4 separate regions of the Homo sapiens genome follow, and all the other regions are linked to region 1. The links come from fine-mapping of genetic effects on gene expression. A gene starts in region 1. Each other region holds a variant in brackets. All regions are shown on one strand. Distances are between the middles of the regions. Region 1 holds the start of RCC1 (regulator of chromosome condensation 1). Region 2 overlaps PHACTR4 (phosphatase and actin regulator 4). Region 3 overlaps TRNAU1AP (tRNA selenocysteine 1 associated protein 1). Region 4 overlaps PHACTR4 (phosphatase and actin regulator 4).

The links. PIP is the estimated chance that this variant, and not a neighbour inherited with it, causes the effect.
Region 2: its variant is the best candidate, but not a certain one, in a credible set for the expression of RCC1 in whole blood (INTERVAL, PIP 0.72).
Region 3: its variant is the best candidate, but not a certain one, in a credible set for the expression of RCC1 in lung (TOPMed, PIP 0.78).
Region 4: its variant is the best candidate, but not a certain one, in a credible set for the expression of RCC1 in CD4 T cells (BLUEPRINT, PIP 0.52).

What each region holds. Positions count from the first base shown.
Region 1 is chr1:28,503,222-28,508,811 of GRCh38, reverse strand. RCC1 (regulator of chromosome condensation 1) reads right to left here and starts at 2,769. Exons shown (of 13, transcript NM_001381865.2): 1 at 2,728-2,769; 2 at 652-684. It overlaps SNHG3 (small nucleolar RNA host gene 3), which reads right to left and starts at 2,869. Exons shown (of 4, transcript NR_036473.1): 1 at 2,728-2,869; 2 at 2,485-2,592; 3 at 652-684. It overlaps SNORA73A (small nucleolar RNA, H/ACA box 73A), which reads right to left and starts at 1,447; the gene lies at 1,241-1,447. It overlaps SNORA73B (small nucleolar RNA, H/ACA box 73B), which reads right to left and starts at 254; the gene lies at 50-254. RefSeq lists enhancers at 704-1,469, 1,661-1,955.
Region 2 is chr1:28,442,073-28,447,662 of GRCh38, reverse strand. The region is part of intron 2 of PHACTR4 (phosphatase and actin regulator 4); the gene reads right to left. Among named protein-coding and RNA genes, the nearest start is that of SNHG3, 61 kb to the left of the region's middle. The variant C/T (reference allele first, on the strand shown) is at 2,644.
Region 3 is chr1:28,555,719-28,561,308 of GRCh38, reverse strand. TRNAU1AP (tRNA selenocysteine 1 associated protein 1) reads right to left here. Exons shown (of 9, transcript NM_017846.5): 3 at 577-676. Among named protein-coding and RNA genes, the nearest start is that of TRNAU1AP, 5.4 kb to the right of the region's middle. The variant C/T (reference allele first, on the strand shown) is at 2,852.
Region 4 is chr1:28,411,015-28,416,604 of GRCh38, reverse strand. The region is part of intron 2 of PHACTR4 (phosphatase and actin regulator 4); the gene reads right to left. Among named protein-coding and RNA genes, the nearest start is that of PHACTR4, 44 kb to the right of the region's middle. The variant A/G (reference allele first, on the strand shown) is at 2,695.

The sequences.
Region 1 (5,590 bases):
TGATTAGACTCCTGAAGATCCTACTTCAACTTAAAATCTAGTATACTAGATATGTTTCCTGCATGGTTTGTCTCCCCAGTCATTGTCCACAGGACTCTGGGAAGCTGTAGGAATATGCAGGCGCAGACACGAGGCCCAGCTTCATCTTCAACGTTGTGGAAAGGGACTGTACATCATGGGGCAGAGCCCTAAGCTCCCCTATGCCACTTGGACAGAGCCTGGGGAGAGTGACCTCCCAGGGTATCCACGTTGGAATGCTCATTAGTGAGGAATTGGAGTAACCGACAAATCCAATATTGCTAATCACCCACAGTATTTTCAAGGGCTAGTATCTTTCTCAGCTCAGGCTACACATGTAGATAAAGCCAATTAGGCTTCCTACAGTTCACTAGGGCAGCTTTTACTACTTTGCACTTTTAATGAGCTGACTAAAAAAAGCAATTTTTACAGAACAGAGCATATGTTGAAGTTATGTCAACATGCCTACAAAAATGCAGCAAAGTCGATATTTGGCTATTGCTCTGAGAATGATTAAATGCCTCAGAGGTAAATCCTGACCAACTAGAATAAAAGTCTCTTCAATCCTATTTCCATTACAGAAATCATTGACAAAGAGCTGATAAGCAAAAAACAATTAGCAGATTTACTCACCAAATAAGAGTTACTTGGAATCCTTAACAAATCCTGCAAAACAAGATATTAATCTATTAGTACAGCAAAACCCTAAACTTTTTCAACGAGGGGCCTCATGCTATCGCCTGGGGTTGGAGTACAGTGGCACTGGAGTATAGGTTTGAGTATAGGTCACTCCTGGGCTCCAGCGATTCTCCTTCCTCCAGCTACCTATCATCATGCCTGGCTACTTTTTAGCCAATTTTTCTTAAACATGTATTAAGACTTCAATCCAGCCAGGTGTGGTGGCTCACGCCTGTAATCCCAACATTTTGGGAGGCCAGAGGCTGGCGGATCACAAGGTCAGGAGTTTGAGACCAGCCTGACCAACATGGTGAAACCCTGTCTTTACTAAAAATACAAAAATTAGCCTGGCGTGGTGGCGGGGGCCTGTAATCCCAGCTACTCAGGAGGCCAAGGCAGGAGAATCACTTAGCATAATCACTTGAACCCGGGAGGCAGAGGCAATGGAGTGCGCCACTGCACTCCAGCCTGGGCAACAGAGCGACTCCATCTCCAAAAAAAAAAAAAAAAAAAAAGACTTCAATCCAGATTCAGTGCTCTAGAAGGCTGTTTCCTGCATGGTTTGTCTCCCCAGTAATTGTCGACAGGACTCTGGGAAGCTGTAGGAATATGCAGGCGCAGACACGAGGCCCAGCTTTATTTCCAACGTTGTGGAAAGGGACTTGTACATCATGGGGCAGAGCCCTATGCTCCCCTACGCCACTTGGACAGAGCCCGGGGAGAGTGACCTCCCGGGTGTATCCACGTTGGACAATCAGTGTAACGCATAAATTTACAGAATCCAATAGGAAACAATTTCATCCATTCATGTTACTACAGATCTTAAACAAGAAAGCAAACGAGTTTCCACCCTGTCCACAGTGGGGTGTTAAAAAAAAATCGGTTTCTAGACTGGTAACATGCATATTCAGCTATTCTAATTACTTTACAATAGGCGGTTAGTACTATGTGGAAGGTACCGCAGAAGCAAAGACAACAATTAGGCCCAGCTATCCTAAATTCAAATGAAACACGTGGACTTGTTAATTACCCCCAAATCGGCCAGGCACGATGGCTCACGCCTGTAATCCTAAAAATATAAAAATAAAAATGACCCAAATCACAAAAATACGAGAAAGCATAATTACGAAACGCAATGCTTCCAAATTATGAAAATCTTCGGCCTGGCGTGGCGGACCACAAGGTCAGGCGTTGGAGACCAGCCTGGCCAACATGGTGAAATCCCGTCTCTACTAAAAATACAAAAATAAGCCAGGCGCGGTGGTACACGCCTGTAGTCCCAGCTACTCGGGAGGCTGCGGCAGGAGAATTGCTTGAGCCCAGCAGGCGGAGGTTGCAGTGGTGCGATCAAATAAAAAGAAAAATTGAGAAAATTCTTAAAGGCAAATGAGGATCCAGAATAAAACTGTGTGCAATTATATTGAGAACGACAATGTGCCTACTATGAGGCAGTAAGATAAACAGTGGGGGTGGCGGTGCACCTTCAGAGGCTCGCTGGGTCGGGCGGCAGCCCTGCGGGTCCCGAGGTCTCCATGGCCCACTTCTGGCCCAGGCCCGTCTAACGCGTACTTTAGAGTTGGGACCGATGCCGCCTAAGACACCCATATATAGTTTTAAATTACATGATTTCCGGCCAGGCGCGGTGGCTCACGCCTGTAATCCCAGCACTTTGGAAGGCCGAGGGTGGTGGATCACCGGAAATCAGGAGTTCAAAACCAGCCTGACCAACATAGCGAAACCCCGTCTCCACTAAGAATACAAAAATTGGCCGGGCGTGGTGGCACGTGCCTGTAATCCCAGCTGCTGGAGAGGCTGAGGCACGAGAATCGCTTGAACCCGGCAGGCGGAGGTTGCAACGAGCACTGCAGTCCAGCCTGAGTGACAAACCGACTCCGTCTCAAAAAAAAAAAAAAAGTAAATAAATAAAATACTATATGATCTTCCTAGGGAAGCTCGGCTACTGATCTATAGCATTAGACCCACAACTCCGGTGGCAAGCATCTGATCACACTTACCAAGGATCACACTTACCAAGGAGAAGAAGCGACCACTGCGAATCTGTCTCCAAAAAGGAGAGAGAAAACGCGAAGCATCCTTTTTAAACCTTACGAAGTGCCCGGAAGTCCTGGAATGTCTATTGCGCGTGCGCAGAAGCATGCGCAGTTAGAGAATCAGAAACTCACTGAGGCTTCTGGGAATCTACTGCAGATTGAGCCCCACCCCTTCCTGGCTGGGAGGCCTCTCGCGGTAGTGGATCCTTCCCGCGGGACCTTGCTGGGGAATGTACGTTACAGAAATAGGTTTGTAGGTATGTAGCTGCAGAGGACGTTTACTTCTGTGCAATCACTGGACTCAGTCTGTAGGATATGCCCTTAGATAAACTGGCCAAAAAGTTTTTGGAAGAGTCGAACGCGGTGGCTCACGCCTGTGATTACAGCAGCTCTGAAGGCCGTGAGGGGCGGATCGCTTGAGGCCAGGAGTTCGAGACCGGCCTGGGCATCATGGCGAAACCCCGTCTCTACAAAAAATACAGAACATAAGCCAGGCATGGTGCCGCGCACCTCCAGTCCCAGCTACTCGGGAGGCTGAAGCATGAGAATCGTTTGAACCTGGGAGGCGGTGGTTGCAGTGAGCCGAGATCGCGCCGATGCACTCCATCCTGGTCGACAGAGCGAAACTCTCTCTCCAAATAAATAAGTAAAACGTTGGAATAATAAGAATGCAGAATGAAAAAAATACATATAGAGAAATACGGAGTATCAAAAGGAATTGAATCTGCTCTGTCACCTGTGAAAGAAATAATTTGATAAATGTGAAGGTAAATAAGATGAAAGTGCCCCTAGACGAATCAGATAAAAGTTTAAAAACTCCAGGCCTGGCCCGGATAAAAATAAATAAAAATAAAAAATAAAAAACTCCATTGCACAACAGTGTGAATGAATGTAATTAAAAGCACTGCCCTATACTCTTTCTTTTTTTTTCGAGATGGAGTTTTGCTCTGTCACCCAGGCTAGAGTGGAATGGCGCGGTCTCGGCTCACTGCAACCCCGGCCTCCCGGGTTCAAGCGATTCTCCTGCCTCGGCCTCCCCAGTAGCTGGGATTACAGGCGCCCGCCACCGTGCCTGGCTAATTTTTGTATTTTTAGCAAGACGGGGTTTCACCATCTTGGCCAGGCTGGTCTCGAACTCCTGACCTCAAGCAATCCACCCGCCTCGGCCTCCAAAGTGCTGAGATTACAGGCATGAGCCAGCGCACCTGGACTTTTTTTTTTTTTTTTTTTTTGAGACGGAGTCTCGCTCTGTCGCCCAGGCTGGAAGGAAGTGGTGTGATCTCGGCTCACTGCAACCTCCACCTCCCAGGTTCAACCAGTTCTCCTGCCTCAGCCTCCCGAGTAGCTGGGACTATAGGCATGCCACCATGCCCGGCTAATTTTTGTATTTTTAGTAGAGACCGGGTTTCACCATGTTGGCCAGGCTGCTCTCGAACTCCTCACCTCAAGTGATGCCCGCCTTGGCCTCCCAAAGTACTGGGATTACAGGCCTGAGCCACCACACCTGGCCCCCTATACATTTTAAACTAGTTAAAAATGGCAAGTTTTATGTATATTTTACCACACACAAAACCCTCTGAATATGAAGTAGGCAAGTAAAGAATGCTTACGATATATATACATAAGAAATGTTGCAAATATGATGGAATTTTTAGTGTGGTGTAAGGTGGAAAAACGTTGGCTAGAGAGACAGAGCTATCACAGCTGGGCTATCTTGAGTAGTAACGTTTATGGTGTTCCTCCTACATATTAGATTTTGTTCTGAATGCTTTATTACGTACATTATTTACTATCGCAGCAATTCTTTTTTTTTTTTTTTTTGAGATGGAGTCTTGCTCTGTTGCCCAGGCTGGAGTGCAGTGGCTCGATCTTGGCTCACTGCATTCTCTGCCTCCTGGGTTCAAGCAATTCTCCTGCCTCAGCCTCCCGAGTAGCTGGGACTGCAAGCAAGTGTCACCATGCCCCACCAATTTTTGTATTTTCAGTAGAGACGGGGTTTCACCATATTGGCCAGGGTGGTCTTGAACTCCTGACCACGTGATCTGCCCGCCTTGACCTCCCAAAGTGCTGGGATTACAGGCATGAGCCACCGTGCCCGGCCTACAAATTTTTTTTTTTTTTTAGATGAAGTCTCACTCTGTCCCCCAGGCTGGAGTGTAGTGGTGCGATCTCGGCTCACTGCAACCTCCGCCTCTCAGGTTCAAGCAATTCTCCTGCCTCAGCCTCCTGAGTAGCTGGGATTACAGGCGCCCGCCACCATGCCCAGCTAATTTTTGTATTTTTAGTAGAGACGGGTTTTCAGCATGTTGGTCAGGCTGGTCTTGAACCCCTGACCTCATGATCCACCTGCCTCGGCCTCCCAAAGTGCTGGGATTACAGGCTTGAGCCACTGCGCCCGACCCCGGCCTACAAAATTTTAAAAAAAATGTTAGCTGAGTGTAGTGGCACATTCCTGTAATCCTAGCTACTTATGAGGTGTGAGGATCACCTGAGCCCAGGAGATGGAGGCTGCAGTGAGTCGTGATCATGCCACTGCACTCCAGCCTGGGCAACAGAGCAAGAACCTATCTCAAAAAAAAAAAAAAAAAAAAAAAAAAAAGACATTTCTGATGTAGGGTTTGTCGTCCCACTGGAATTGCAAGGTAAGAGAAGAACTTGAGGATACCAGAGTTTCAGGCTTAGGAGGCTGAACATACTATGGTCTCTAACCTTGATAAGTGGAAATGCAGGCAGTGGGGGAGGAGTAATGTCCACATTGGAGTATATACGAGTTACCTGAGTAACATCTGGTTGTATATAAGTCCAAAGAGCAATTAGATATATGGGGTTGGGCTTCCTGTAAG
Region 2 (5,590 bases), 61 kb after region 1:
TTAAGGGTATGTTTTTATAGTGAAGGGCCAGAATATAAGCTATTCACTCATGGAAAAAAAACTTCAAACTTTCCAAAGTTTACTTGCAAGTAGAAAGACGAAATACATAGCCAGGCATGGTGGTGGGCACCTGTAATGCCAGCTACTTGGGAGGCTGAGGCAGGAGAATCACCTGAATCCAGGAGGCAGAGGTTGTAGTAAGTCGAGATCGTGCCACTGCACTCCAGCCTGGGCGACAGAGTGAGACTGTCTCAAAAAAAAAAAAAAGAAAAAAGAAAGAGGAAATACATATGTAGGTTGTGATAATAGGTCTATTAGTCCATTCTTGCATTGCTATAAAGAATTACCTGAGGCCAGGTACAGTGGCTCACACCTGTAATCCCAGCACTTTGGGAGGCCAAGGCAGGAGGATCACCTGAGGTCAGGAGTTCAAGACCAGCCTGGCCAATACGGCGAAACCCCGTCTCTACTAAAAATACAAAAAGTAGCCAGGCTTGGTGGCACGCGCCTGTAGTCCCAGCTACTCAGGAGGCCAAGGCAGGAGAATTACTTTGAACCCAGGAGGTAGAGGTTGCAGTGAGCTGAGATCGCACCACTGGACTCCAGCCTGGGCAACAAAGTGAGACTCTATCTAAATAAATAAATAAATAAATAAATAAAAAGAAATACCTGAGACTGGGTAATTTATAAAGAAAAGAGGCTTAATTGGCTCATGTTTCTGCAGTCTGTATAGGAAGAATGATGCTAGTATCTGCCTGGCTTCGGGGGAAGCTGCAGGAACTTACAATCATGGTGGAAGATGAAGGGGGAGTAGACACGTCACATGGCCCAGAACAGGAGCAAGAGAGCAAGGGGGCAGGTGCCACACACTTTTCTTTTTTTTTGAGATGGAGCCTCACTCTGTTGCCCAGGCTGGAGTACAGTGGCGCAATCCTGGCTCACGACAACCTCCGCCTCCAGGGTTCAAGGGATTCTCCTGCCTCAGCCTCCTGAATAGCTGGGACTACAGGCACACGCCACCATGCCCGGCTAATTTTTGTAGTTTTAGTAAAGACAGGGTTTCACCATGTTGGCCAGGCTGGTCTTGAACTCCCGACCTCATGATCCACCTGCCTCGGCCTCCCAAAGTGCTGGGATTACAGGCATGAGCCACTGCACCCAGCCTCCACACACTTTTAAATGACCAGATCTCATGAGAACTTACTATCTTGAGGACAGTACTAAGTGGATGGTGTTAAACCATTCGTGAGAAATCCACCCCAATCACCTCCCACCAGGTCCCACTTCCAACACTGGGGATTACAATTTAACATGGGATCTGGTTGGGGACCTAGATCCAAACCTTATTAATGGCCTATTTAGAAAATCCACTGGAGCAGAGAGAGGGATCAATAAGTTTTGGTTGGTAGTCCAAATTTGATAACAGAGAATCTTTTAAGGAGTTTATGACAGACCCCTATATTGCCACCTCCTCCTGAACACTGGATTACATGAGGAAAGTATGCCTGTTTCTCCTTTTTTAAAAGAAAGCATTTACTGTTAGATAAACAGCAGACAGGTATGAGAAATGTCTTTATAATTCTGATAACCAAATACTACTAAGCCTTTTTCTCCAAAATCTCATGAAGTACTTTATTTTAAATTAACCTATTATTTACTCCAGTTTTATTGTTGTTATGTAGCTATGTTAAATTTTATTCATCCTGCAATCTCCTTAGGATTTTGCCTCTAAGTGATAATATATTTCTTTTCCTTTCTTTTTTGTTTTTCAAACACAGTCTCGCTCTGTTAGCCAGGCTGCAGTGCAGTGACATGATCATGGCTCACTGCAGCCTCAACCTCCTGGGCTCAAGTGATCCTCCCATCTCAGCCTCCTGAACAGCTGGGACTGCAGGTGTGCACCACCACACCTGACTAATTGTTACATTTTTTTTGTAGAGATGGGGGATGATATATTTCCAAATCACGTTCCCCAAAACTGCTTCCAGTATCATAAGGGTGAGAACCCCATAACTCCAAGTTTCAGAGAAAATAAATCAAATGGTTATGGAAAAGGAATGTAGGAAAGAGAACATACAGTATCTTTTATAGCAATATATTATTATGCAAAAGAAAAGTGGGGGGAAAAGTTAATTAGTGAATTAGGGTAAATGAAGGGGCAAAAAGGAAAAAAAAAGAGAGGTAAAATGGAAAGACAGAGAAGGAAAGTTCCAAGCCAAATGGTTGGAGAGAATTTATTAAAAATCTTTGGTCCTTCTAATTAGAATTAGGAAGGGCTGGGTGCAGTGACTTATGTTTGTAATCCTAGCACTTTGGGAGGCCAAAGTGGGAGGATCGCATGAGCCCAGGAGTTCAAGACCAGCCTGGGCAACATAGCGAGACTCTGTCTTAAAAAAGAATAATTAAATATGGCCAGGTGAGGTGGCTCACGCCTGTAATCCCAGCACTTTGGGGGGCTGAGGCAGGTGGATCATGAGGTCAGGAGTTCAGGACCAGCCTGGCCAAGATGGTGAAACCCCGTCTCTACCTAAAATACAAAAATTAGTCGGGCATGCTGGCAGGCGCCTGTAATCCCAGCTACTCAGGAGGCTGAGGCAGAGAATTGCTTGAACCCGAGAGGTGGAGGTTGCAGTGAGCTGAAAT[C/T]GTGCCACTGCACTCCGCCTGGGCAACAGAGAAAGACTCTGCCTCAAAAAAATAAAATAAATAAATAAATAGTTAAATAATATAAAAATGGGAGGCTGGGCGCAGTGGCTCACACCTGTAATCCCAGCACTTTGGGATGCCGAGGCAAGTGGATCACGAGGTCAGGAGATCGAGACCATCCTGGCTAACACGGTGAAACCCCGTCTCTACTAAAAATACAAAAAAAAAAAAAAAAAATTAGCTGGGTGCGGTGGCAGGCGCCTGTAGTCCTAGCTACTTGGGAGGCTGAGGCAGGAGAATGGCGTGAACCCGGGAGGTGGAGCTTGCAGTGAGCCGAGATCGCGCCACTGCACTCCAGCCTGGCCAACACAGCGAGACTCTGTCTCAAAAAATAATAATAATAAAAATAAAAAAATAAATAATATAAAAATGGGAAAGACCAAATGATCTGAAGAGACATTTCTCAAAAGAAGACATAAAAATGCCCAAATAGGCCAAGGGCTGTGGCTTATGCCTGTAGTCCCAGTACTTTGGGAGGCTGAAGTGGGCGGATCACAAGGTCAGGAGATCAAGACCATCCTGGCCAACATGGTGAAACCCTGTCTGTATTAAAAATACAAAAATTAGCTGGTCATGGTGGCACGTGCCTGTAATCCCAGCTACTCGGGAGGCTGGGGCAGGAGAACAGCCTGAACCAGGGAGTCGGAGGTTGCAGTGAGCCAAGACTGCTCACGCCACTGCATTCCAGCCTGGCGACAGAGCAAGACTCTGTCTCAAAAAAAAAAAAAAAAAAAAAAAAAAAAAAGCCAAATATATTTTTTTAAATGCTCAACATAACAAATCATCAGGTGAATGCAAATCAAAACCACAATGAGGTATCATCTCACCCCAGTTAGGAGGCTATTATCAAAAAGACAAAAAGTAGCCAGTGCTGGTGAGGGTACAGAGTAAAGGGAACACTATACACTGTCGGTGGGAATGTAAACTAGTATAGCCACTATGGGGAACAGTATGGAGGGTCCTCAAAAGAAAGAAAAACTACAAATAGCGCTACCATATGATCCAGCAATACCATTACTGGGAATATATCCAAAGGAAAGGAAATCATTATACTGAAGAGATATCTGCACTTCCATGTTTACTGTAGTACTACTCAACAACAGCCAAGATATGGAATCAACCTAGGTGTTCAACAACAGATGAATGGATAAAGAAAATGTGGTATATATACAAAATGGAATACTATTTAGCCATAAAAAAGAATGAGCCAGGTGTACTAGCTCACAACTGTAATCCCAGCACTTTGGAAGGCTGAGGCAGGAAGATCACTTGAGTCCAGGTCCAGGAGTTTGAGACCAGCCAGGGAAAGAGAGTGAGACCTCGTTTCGTCAAAAAATAAAAAAAACTAGCCAGGTGTGGTGGCATGTGCCTGTAGTCCCAGCTACTTAGGAGGCTGAGGGGGGAGGATCGCTTGAATCTAGGAGGCTGAAGCTGCAGTGAGCTATGATTGTGTCACTGTACTCCAGCCTGGGTGACAGAGTGGGATTCTGTCTCAAGAAAAAAAAAAAGAATTAGCTGGGTATGACAGTGTGCACCCGTAGTCCCAGCTACTCGGGAGGCTGAGGCAGGAGAATTGCTTGAACCTGGGAGGTGGAGGTTGCAGTGAGCCGAGATCGCGCCACTGCACTCCAGCCTCGGTGACAGAGTTGAGACGAAAGAACGAAAGAAAGAAAGAAGAGAGAGAGAGAAAGAAAGACAATGAAATCCTGTCATTCTCAGCAACATGGATGGAACTAAGGACATTATTTTAAGTTAAATAAGCTAGGAACAGGAAGTTTAACACCACATGTTCTCACTCATACATAGAAGCTAAAAAAAAGTTGATCTCATAGGAGTAAAAAGTACAACAGAGGCTACTAGAGGCTGGGAGAGATAATGGGAAGGGATGGGTAGGGAAAGATTTGTTAAAGAATACAAAATTACAGCTAGATAAGAGGAAAAAGTTCTAGTGTTCTATGCCACTGCAGAATGACTATAGTTAATAATATGTAGTTTCAAATAGCTGAGGAGGATTTCAACCTTCCCAATATAAATAAATACATGTTGGAGATGATGAATATGCTAATTACCCTAATCTAATCACATCATACATATGGAAATATCCATTATGTAGCCCATGAACAGGTACAATTATTTTCAATTAAAAAAAAAATTTGCCAGGCACAGTGGCTCACACTTGTAATCCCAGCACTTTGGGAAGCCAAGGCAGGCGGATCACTTGAGGTCAGGAGTTTGAAAGCAACCTGGCCAACATGGCGAAACCCCGTCTCTACAAAAATACAAAAATTAGCCAGGCTTAGTGGTGGGCACCTGTAGTCCCAGCTACTCGGGAGGATGAGACAGGAGAATCACTTGAACCTGGAAAGCAGAAGTTGCAGTGAGTCGAAATCACGCCACTGCACTCCAACTTGGGTGACAGAGTGAGACTTCATCTCAAAAAAAAGTAAATAAATAAATACACAAACAAACAAACAAAAACTTTTTTTTCTTTTTTTTTGAGACAGAGTCTCACTCTGTCGCCAGGCTGGAGTGCAGTGGCACGATCTCGGCTCACTGCATCCTCCGCCTCCTTGTTTCAAGCGATTCTCCTGTCTCAGCCTCCTGAGTAGCTGGGACTACAGGCACGCGCCACCATGCTCAGCTAATTTTTGTATTTTTAGTAGAGACAGGGTTTCACCATGTTGGCCAGGGTTGTCTCATCTCCTGACCTCGTGATTCACCCGCCTTGGCCTCCCAAAGTGCTGGGATTACAGGCATGAGACACTGCGCCCAGCCAAAAAAATACATTTAAAAAATAAAAAATAAATTGAAAAAATTCTTCGGTCTTGTGCCTAATTTAAGGATATGTGATAATTAGCTAGTTGTTTTAATATGACACATAGTAAAG
Region 3 (5,590 bases), 52 kb before region 1:
GGTGTTTCAAGAGTTGAACAATATTTGAAGAAAACTGAAATAAATTACCTTGGCCAAAACATCTCCCCCTCTCTAAGCCTCAGCTTTTTCTCCTGTATAAAATGAGGGGGTTGCACGGATGACCGCTAAGGGCACTGCCAGCTCCATGGTTCTATGAGCCCAGGTGTGCCAGCTGGTGCAGCTGTAAGCTAAGTAACTGTGGGAAGAGCAGAATGCAACTCTCTTGAAATGTGTCCTTGCTGCTGCCAGCCTATTCTAGTTTCCCAATCAGGCAAGAGGTCTAGAGTTTCAAGTCTTCGGTTATGGGAGGCAGCAATGCAGAATGGAAAGGCATGGATTTGGGAGGCAACCAATCTTCAGTCTGAATCCTGGCTCTGCCATTTACTACCTGTGTTGCCTTGGACAAGTTATTTCAATTCCCTGAGCTTCAGTTTCCTGGGCCTACAAAGATAACAATGCCTACTGTAAAGGGTTGTTTTAGGATTAAATAAAATAAGTATACAGTAGGGATTCAATAGATGGTAGTAAGCAATGACAATAATAATGGCAACATCATCATTATCTAAATGTCCTTACAGGTGTGGCTCCTGGAAGGGGTTTCCCATTAATTTTATGCAAACACTTCTCAGCTGTGGCCAAATCTGCAAATTCTACAAAGCAGTAGCCAGCTGGGATCCTGGAAAAAAAGCAAATAGAGAAAGAAAATGGTTAAAGATAAAATGGCTCAAGATGAGGCCAGGCGTGATGGCTCACGCATATAATCCCAACAGTTTGGGAGGCCAAGGCAGGTGGATCACTGAAGGTCAGGAGACCAGCCTGGACAACATGCTGAAACACCATCTCTACTAAAAATACAAAAATTGGCTGGGCATGGCGGCGCACACCTGTAGTCCCAGCTTACTCGGGAGACTGAGGGGGAGAATTGCTGTAACCCAGGAGGTGGAGGTTGCAGTGAGCTGAGATCATGCCACACTGCTCCAGCCTGAGCAACAGGCTGGTTTGAGACTGTTTTAAAAAAAAAAAAAAAAAGGCTCAAGATGGGTCTTGGCCTTGAAGGGAGAAAGAAATGTTTTTCTAATCTGAGCCAACACTGTTTTTGTTCCCTGCCATACCCCAGCTCAGACCTAATTTACAAGCCTGAATATAAGGATTGTCCATCTGGGCCAGTCCAAGATTCGTTTATCTGTATTTATTTATTTATTTATGAGACGGATATCATCTCGATCTCAGCTCACTATAACCTCTGCCTCTCAGGTTCAAGCAATTATCCTGCCTCAGCCTCATGAACACTTGGAATTACAGGTACCCACCACCATGCCTGGCTAATTTTTGTATTTTTAGTAGAGATGGGATTTTGCCATGTTGGCCAGGCTGATCTTGAACTCCTGACCTCAGGAGATCCACCCACTTCGGCCTCCCAAAGTTCCGGGATTACAGGCATGAGCCAAGGCACCTGGCCCCAGACTCATTTAGTAAACATTCATTTATGCATTTTATCATGTGTGAATACTCTTGTCAAAATTGTATTATGCAATCCCATCAAGACTTTAGATCTAATAACCAGTTCCAGGAAATTTTAGAGATAGACTATGCAAAACACCACAAGTAAACAAATGAATGCAGAATGTATGATCTGTTTTTTTTTTCTGAGACCGAGTTTTGCTCTTGTTGCCCAGGCTGGAGTGCAATGACGCAATCTTGGCTCACTGCAACCTCCACCTCCTGGGTTCAAGCGATTCTCCTGCCTCCACCTCCCAGATTCAAGCGATTCTCCTGCCTCAGCCTCCCAAGTAGCTGGAATTACAGGCATGCGCCACCATGCCCAGCTAATTTTGTATTTTCAGTAGAGATGGGGTTTCTCCATATTGGTCAGGCTGGTCTTGAACTCCCGACCTCAGGTGATCTGCCCGCCTCGGCCTCTCAAAGTGCTAGGATTACAGGCATGAGCTACCGCACCCAGCCTCAGAATATAGGCTCTTATAAAGACAACTAGTCTTACCTCCTTAAAAAGTTAAATAGTATGAGGAAAAAAAGAGGTTGGCTTTTATACATTAAAAGAGACTCAAAAAATTAGCCAGGCATGGTGGTAGGCGCCTGTAGTTCCAGCTACTCGGCAGGCTGAGGCAGGAGAATTGCTTGAACCCGGGAGGCAGAGGCTGCAGTGAGCCGAGATCGCGCCACTGCACTCCAGCCTGGGCGACAGAACAAGACTCTGTCTCAAAAAAATAAAAAATAAATAAAAATAAAAGAGACTCAGAAGAACCAAATGCAATGCAGGTTCCTGGATTGAATTATAATTCACTAATAAATGAAAAACTATCAATATTGTGGGGACAATTATAAAAATTTAAATGTAGACCTGCTATGATATGGTATTAGAGAATCACTGATAATTTTGTTAGTGTGATATAAGCATTGTGGTTATGTAAGAAAACGTCCAGTTTCGCCAGGCGCGGTGGCTCACGCCTGTAATCCCAGCACTTTGGGAGGCCGAGGCGGGCGGATCACGAGGTCAGGAGACTGAGACCATACTGGCTAACACAGTGAAACCCCATCTCTACTAAAAATGCAAAAAAATTAGCCAGGCGTGGTGGCGGGCACCTATAGTCCCAGCTACTAGGGAGGCTGAGGCAGGAGAATGGCGTGAACCCAGGAGGCAGAGCTTGCAGTGAGCAGACATCACGCCACTGCACTCCAGCCTGGGCGACAGAATGAGACTCCGTCTCAAAAAAAAAAAAAAAAAAAAAATTAGTCGGGCGTAGTGGTGTGTGCCTGTAGTCCCAGCTACTCGGGAGCCTGAGGCAGGAAAATTGCCTGAACGCGGGAGGCGGAAGTTGCAGTGAGCTGAGAT[C/T]GCATCAATGCACTCCAGCCTGGATGACACGGTGAGACTGGGTCTCAAAAACAAACAAAAAAAAAATATACGAAAATTAGCTGGGTGGGGTGGTGTGTGCCTGTAATCCCAGCTACTCGGGAGGCTGAGGCACAAGAATTGCTTGAACCCGGAGGGAGAGGTTGCAGTGAGCCAACATCACGCCACTGCACTCCAGCCTGGCAACACAGCCAGACTCCATCTCAAAAAAAAAAAAAAAAAAATACAAAAATTAGCAGGGCGGGCTGGGCACAGTGGCTCACGCCTGTAATTCCAACACGTTGGGAGGCCAAGGCGGGTGGATCAGGAGGTCAGGAGTTCTGACCAACATGGTGAAACCCTGTCTCTACTAAACAAAAAAAAAAAAAAAAAAAAAATTAGCCAGGCATAGTGGCACATGACTGTAATCCCAGCTACTCAGGAGGCTGAGGCAGGAGAACTGCTTGAATTTGGGAGGTGGAGGTTGCAGTGAGTCGAGATCATTCCACTGCACTCCAGCCTGGGCGACAGAGACTCTGCCTCAAACCAAAAAAAAAAAAATTAGCTGGGTGTTGGCCGGGAGCGGTGGCTCACGCCTGTAATCCCAGAACTTTGGGAGGCCAAGGTGGGTGGATCACGAGGTCAAGAGATCGAGACTATCCTGGCCAACATGGTGAAAACCTGTCTGTAATAAGAATACAAAAATTAGCTGGGCATGGTGGTATGTGCCAGTAGTCCTAGCTACTCGGGAGGCTGAGGCAGGAGAATGGCTTGAACCCGAGAGGTGCAGATTGCAGTGAGCTAAGATTGCGCCACTGCACTCCTGCTTGGTGACAGAGCAAGACTCTGTCTCAAAAGAAAACAAAACAAAACAAAACACCAAGATTATAGAAAAGGAGAAAAGATAAGACCCAAGGAAAAATAATATGTAATATAGTCTGGGTGACAAGAGCGAAACTCTGCCTCAAAGTAAAAAAAAAAAAAAAAAAAAGAAACATGTAAGAAACAAGAGTTCCATATCTTATTTCTTTTCTTTTTTTTGAGACAGAGTCTCACTTTGTCGCCCAGGCTGGAGTGCAGTGGTGTGATCTCCGCTCGCTGCAAGCTCCACCTCCCGGGTTCACGCCATTCTCCTGCCTCAGCCTCCCGAGTAGCTGGGACTACAGGCGCCCGCCACCATGCCTGGCTAATTTTCTTGTATTTTTAGTAGAGACGGGGTTTCACTGTGTTAGCCAGGATGGTCTCGATCTCCTGACCTCGTGATCCGCCTGCCTCGGCCTCCCAAAGTGCTGGGATTACAGGTGTGAGCCACTGTGCCTGGCCCATATCTTATTTCAATAAACAGTAAGGTTGGTCCCAGTGGCTCATGCCTGTAATCCAGCACTTTGGGAGGCTGAGGCGGACAGATCACCTGAGGTCAGGAGTTCGAGGCTAGCCTGGCCAACACAGTGAAATCCCATCTATACTAAAAATAGAAAAAATTAGGCCGGGCGCAGTGGCTCACGCCTGTAATCCCAGCACTTTGGGAGGCTGAGGCAGGCAGAGGTCAGAAGATTGAGACCATCCTGGCTAACACAGTGAAATCCCATCTCTACTAAAAATACAGAAAATTAGCTGGATGTGGTGGCACACGGCTGTAGTCCCACCTACTCAGGAAGCTGAGGCAGGAGAATCGCTTGAACCTGGGAGGCAGAGGTTGCAGTGAGCTGAGATCGCACCACTGCACTCCTGCCTGGGTGACAGAGCGAGACTCCGTCTCAAAAAACAAACAAACAAAAAAAATGAGCTGGGCGTGGTGGCAGGTGCTTGTAATCCCAGCTACTCAGGAGTCTGAGAGAGGAGAAGGGCTTAAACCCAGGAGGCGGAGGTTGCAGTGAGCCAAGATGGTGCCATTGCACTTCAGCCTGGGCAACAGAGGGAGACTATGCCTCAGAAAAAAAAAAAAAAAAAAGATTAAAATGTGAGAATCTATGCCAGTGTTTTACTTATTTATTTTTGCAACAAAGTTTCCCTCTGTCACCCAGGCTGGAGCACAGTGGCACAATCTCGGCTCACTGCAACCTCTACCTCCTGGGTTCAAACGATTCTCCTTCCTCAGCCTCTCAAGTAGTTGGAATTACAGGTGTGTCTCACCACACCTGGCTAATTTTTGTATTTTTTTAGTAGAGACAAGGTTTCACCATGTTGTCCAGGCTGTTCTCAAATTCCTGACCTCAAGTGATCTGCCCACCTCAGCCTCCCAAAGTGCTGGGATTACAAGTGTGAGCTACCGTGCCCAGCCTATGCCAGTGTTTTAAAAAGTAGAAAGGGGCCGGGCGCGGTGGCTCACACCTGTAATCCCAGCACTTTGGGAGGCCAAGGCAGGCGGATCACGAGGTCATGAGATTGAGACCATCTGGCTAACATGGTGAAACCCCATCTCTACTAAAAATACAAAAAATTAGCCTGGCGTGGTGGCGGGCGCCTGTAGTCCCAGCTACTTGGGAGGCTGAGGCAGGAGAATGGCTTGAACCCAGGAGGTGGAGCTTGCAGTGAGCCGAGATCGTGCCACTGCACACCAGCCTGGGCCACAGAGCAAGACTCCGTCTCAAAAAAAAAAAAAAGAAAAAAAAATGAGAAAGGTTACAGAATGAATTTTCATACCAGTAGCTGATTATCTGGGGTTTTCTGCTTAGAAGAGCAAGAAGAGAAATATTTAGGTGGGCACGATCTACCAGTCAGAAAAACCTTTTCCTAGGTAAT
Region 4 (5,590 bases), 92 kb after region 1:
AAAAGTGGTGAGAGGACACAGGCAATAGTCCAGAATGTCAGCATTACTGCCTTTCCAGGCTTCTACTACTACTACTACAGCTCATCTTTTTCTACTGACAGAAAAAATAATTACATAATATCTGTTATTCAGGTTCACAGAATTTGGTGCCTGTGTACTCTGTTTTCCTTAAGATTGGTAATTCTATCTTATGCAGAAAAATTAAAACCACTGGAAGAAACACATACAGATATGTATTGTGTGTTTACTACTGGGCAGTGGGTAGGATGTAACAGTAAAAACATGTTGACCTTTATACCCCTTCAGGAAATAAGATGACAGAGGATATTTAATATATATTTATAATAATGCTATATTAAATTTCTCATCAAGACCACTAGGAGAAAAAATGGAACTAGCATCAATTTTGGCATCATGTAATACTGGAGGAATTTAACTCCTACACCCTGAGGACCTCAAAACTAATTAAGCTTGTATTTTGTCTTTCATTCTTAAAGAGGAGGGAGGGAAGGACTATGTTACTGGCATATTTTGAGCTTCAAGTGATAACAACATAACATCAAAAATGTTTTCCCATGAACTTTGAAGTGCATTATGTCTTGAGTTTGGCTCCTTGGCAAATGTTCTTAAACAGCTAGAAAAAAACTCCTTTATAGCATCATCATAATAATTCATAAATTCAGATACAGAATAAGAAAAAAATAATTGACTTTGTTTAGGAAATAATAAATTCTATTTGCTACCTTAACAAACTACTTCTCCTATTTCCTATATGATACAAATTCTAATCAAAAGGAGGTATTATCTTATAAATTTGTTTCCAGAATGCCATGCATATGAATAAAGCCTTTGCAACTAGCTTTAAATTCAGAATGCAAACTGATAATCTACATCTCATTAAACAATCACCAAACACACCCAAAAAAGTATTTTCAACAAGTCATGTTCATATTTATACAAGAGAGGGTATATAGAAACTTAATGAAGTATTCAGATGATTTAAAACATTTTGGGAAGGCAATTAGTATGCAGATCCTCCTCCACCTCAAAAATCTTTAGAAGGAAGTCACAACTCAGTACTTTTAAATAAGTGATATGCTAGGGTTTCAGTCCCTTTTGTTCTGGTATGCTCTTGGGAGAATGACTGTTAACTCCATAAGCAGTTGAAAAGGGAGGAAGAAAGCAGAAGCACGAATTAGCTATTTTTGAAAGTAGTGGGGTGTGGAGCATCATGGTAGCACAAATTCTATGCACATCCTCTCTGGATCCTTCCTTCACTCAGCACTTATGTACAGTGTAGCCATGAATTTTTTTCTTTCTTTTCTCTCTCTTTTTTTTTTTTTTGAGACAGAGTCTCGCTCTGTTGCCCAGGCTGGCGTGGAGTGGCGTGATCTTGGCTCACTGCAACCTCCGCCTCCCGGGTTCAAGCAATTCTCCTGCCTCAGCCTCCCAAGTAGCTGGGACTACAGTAGCACGCCATCATGCCTGGGTAATTTTTTGTATTTTAGTAGAGGCGGGGTTTCACCTTGTTGCCCAGGCTGGTCTCGAATTCCTGAGCTCAGGCAAACCGTCCACCTCGGCCTCCCAAAGTGCTAGGATTACGGGGGTGAGCCACCGCGCCCAGCCTAATTTTTTCTTTTAACTGGTAGTATACACCAGTATAGGTTAACAAGTAATACATTCATTGTATTTTATCCAGGTCTCTGAAATGAGATGAAAGGGAGGTGACCTAAAATCAGGAGAAGCAAGGTAAAAGCTGTTTGATTCCTCTATCACTTTCCCTACTCCATGATCTTCAATGTCTGTCCTACACTAACTCTGGCGGAATTTTGGAATCTGTTTTCCAAGAAAGTGTAAAGCAAATGGTCTCTGGAAAGGGGTCGCAAAAGGCAACTGATGGTAGGGATATGGTACAAAAAATGGAAGGGGTTGGGTGCAATGGCTCATGCCTGTAATCTCAACTTTTGGGGAGGCCGAGGTGGGAGAATCACTTGAGCCCAGGAGTTCAAGACCAGCCTGGGCAACATAGGGAGACTGCATCTTTACAAAAAGTAAAAAAATTAGTCAGGCATGGTGGTATGTGCCTATAGTCCCAGCTACTTGGGAGGCAGAGGTGGGAGAATTGTTTGAGCTCAGGAGGTCGAGGCTGCGGTGCTTTTTTTTTTTTTTTTTTTTTTGAGACAGAGGAAGACTGACCCCAAAAAATAAAAATAAAAAAATAAAATGAAAAAGAAAATAAGGCCAGCTGCAGAGGCTCATGCCTGTAATCTCAGCACTTTGGTAGGCCGAGGCAGGCGGATCACCTGAGGTCAGGAGTTCGAGACCAGCCTAGCCAACATGGTGAAACCCTAAAACTACAAAAATTAGCCAGGCAGTGATGGGTGCTTGTAATCCCAGTTACTCGGGAGGCTGAGGCCAGGAGAATCATTTGAACCCAGGAGGCAGAGGTTGCAGTAAGCTGAGATGGCGCCACTGCACTCTAGCCTGGGTGACAGAGCAAGACTCCATCTCAAAAGATAAAAATAAAGTAAAATAAAATACAAATACAAGTAAAATTAAAAATGGAAGAGAATTAAGTGAAAATATGCATAATTAATGCTGAATGCAGCAGTCTCTTCAGTCAGTTTTCTTCACCCCTTACCATCCAAACACAGTGGGAAGACTGTGCCCCTTAGACCCTGATACTGATATGAG[A/G]ATGTTCATCAACAATAAGGCCAAGAAGCTCACCCAAAGGCAACCTGCCTATACATTTAAAGCTTCTAACTGGCTATTTAGTCCCTCACTTTTAACCATCAGCAGACAGTTAATTATTACTAGACATCAGAGAAAAACTCTAACATAAAAGAAACCAAATCAATATTTAAAAACAATGTTAGGAAAAAAAGAGACTATGCAGGGCAAGGAAAATCTGTTGAAAGAATGAAAGGATAGTATAAAAAGAAACATGCAGAGACTTCAAAAAGACCTCCTGGAGATTAAACTCTAATAGTAGAAAAGAAAAATTTAATAAAAGTAGAAGATAAAGTTGAATAAATCTTGCAGGAAACATATCTAAAGGAAAAAGAAATGAATTAGATAATTATTCCAGGAGGTTCAACATCAAAAAGCTACTGGCAACCAAGACAGAGGAAGACATGAGGGTTTAGGAAACAAAGGAGCTAACACAGGAAAGAAGCAAAGCTGTCAGGAAAATGGAGACTGGATAACCCAGGATGACAGTTGCGTACCACCTCTACAGACTGCAAGGCCACCTGTACACAGACTGGAGCAATGTGACTCAAGAGATATATTGAAAGCTGTCATCACCAATATCTCTGCTGCTATTTATCCTTTTTAAAGCTAAGAACACAGTACCCAGGTGAGCCTGGCCCTCAGCCTGTCTTGACTAAATGCTTATGGATTTCTTCTTTGAACATACTTGATTGCCTAATGAGTTCCAGACTCATTTCGCTCCACAAAAGTTTCTTTAACCCAGCGGTCCCCAACCTTTTTGGCACCAGGGACCAGGTTCATGGAAGACAATTTTTCTACAGACGGGGGTGTTGGGGTGGTTTGGGATGAAACTGTTCCACCTAATCACTGATCTGACAGGAGGTGGAGCTCAGACTGTAATGCTCACTGGCCCACTGCTCACCTCCTGTGGCCCGGGGGTAGTGGTGCAGGGTACTCCTGCTTAGGAGAAACCACAGAGCTAATCACTCCCTCTGACCATATTTCTGTCAAATGTCCAAGACCTAGTCCACACTGAAACCCTGCCCAATACAATCTCCAGGATTAAATCTTAACTTTACTCATGACTTCCATAGAAGGGCCTCTAGGAACCTCAGGAAAATGAAGCAAGTATAATCTGCTGATCTCTGGGGATCCCTGAGATCCTTTCAGAAGTCCAAGAGGTAAAACTAAATACATAAGAATACAAAAAAATTATTTGCCTTTTCCACTGTGTTGACACTTGCACTGATGGTACAAAAGCAATGGTGAGCAAAACTGTTAGCACCTTAACACAAATCAAGGCAACAGCACCAAACTGTAGCAGAAATCATTGTATTCTTCACAACTACACAGTTACAGTGAAAAATAAATTCAACTTTAAGAATGTCCTTGATAAAGCAATAAAAAATATTAGTTTTAATAAATATCAACCCTTTAGTACATATATTTTTATTACTGTTTATGATGAAACAGAAATATGTATAAAGCACATTTGTATACTAAGTATGATGGTTATCTCCAGGAAAGGCATTTGTGTGACTGAGTTGCAAACTGAACTAGACAGTTTTCTTCATGGAATACTATTTTTACTTGAAAGACTGAACAACAAGCTATGTTATTCAAGCTTAGATAGCTGACAGGCATTTTCTCAAAAGTAAGCCTGTCACTAATAAAGAAAATTAACAGTATTTGTTGCTAGTGATAGAATTCAAGCTTTCAAGTGAAATTCCTATTTTGGAAAATTTACATCCAGAATGAGCTTGACAGCTTCCCAACATTTAACATTTTTTTCAACGAGACCAATAGTGATATTAACGAACATGATATTTAAATATTATATAATGAAATGTGTAAGCATCTGTCCAGGTAGAAAAGGTCCTAGAGACCTTAGGTCTATCCTTCTGGTACTTTATTCGTAAAAATCCCTCACTACTTTTATTTCCAGAATACCACAAATAATTCTTTCTTTCTTTCTCTTTCTTTCTTTCTTTTGTTCATTCGTTCTTTCTTTCTTTTGTTCATTCGTTCTTTCTTTCTTTCTTTTGGGTGGTTTCTGTTTTCTTTTTTTCCTTTTTTATGTCATTTTTTACTTCAATAGGTTTTGGGGAATGGGTAGTATTTGGTTACATGAATACGTTCTTTAGTGGTGATTTCTAAGATTCTGGTGCAACCATCATCCAAGCCGTGTACACTGTACCCAATGTGTAGTCTTTTATCTCTTTTTCAATATTTCTACTTAATTATTAGCTAACTTGATTATAACAAAATTCTCACTCCACCAAAAGAAACAAACTCATTTTACATCCTCAATTCTTTTCTTTGTCAAATGACACTGAGTACACCAAATTCTTATCATATGTATATGTGTGTATATGTATAGTAAACAACTAAGAAAAAAATCATTATAACATTTAGAAGGAAAAATGGAGACAGAGGAGAATGGTAGTTAAATATGAGTCATTTCTGTTTTCCTATAAACTCCATATTATGATTGAATGAATGTTAATTTACAAATTCCAAGATTTAAATAAGTGTTTAGAAAAAAATAATCTCAGGCCGGGCTCACACCTGTAATCCAAACACTTTCGGAGGCCGAGGCAGGTGGATCATCTGAGGTCAGGAGTTCAAGACCAGCCTGGCCAATATGGCGAAATCCCGTCTCTATTAAAAATACAAAAATTAGTTGGGTGTGGTGGCAGGTGCCTGTAGTCCCAGCTACTTGGGAGGCTGAGGCAGGAGAATTGCTTGAACCCAGGAGGCGGAGGTTGCAGTGAGCCGAGATCACACCATTGTACTCCAGCCTGGGTGACAGAGCAAGACTCCACCTCAAAAAAACCCCCAAAAAACAAAAACAAACCAAAAAAATAAAAATAAAAAA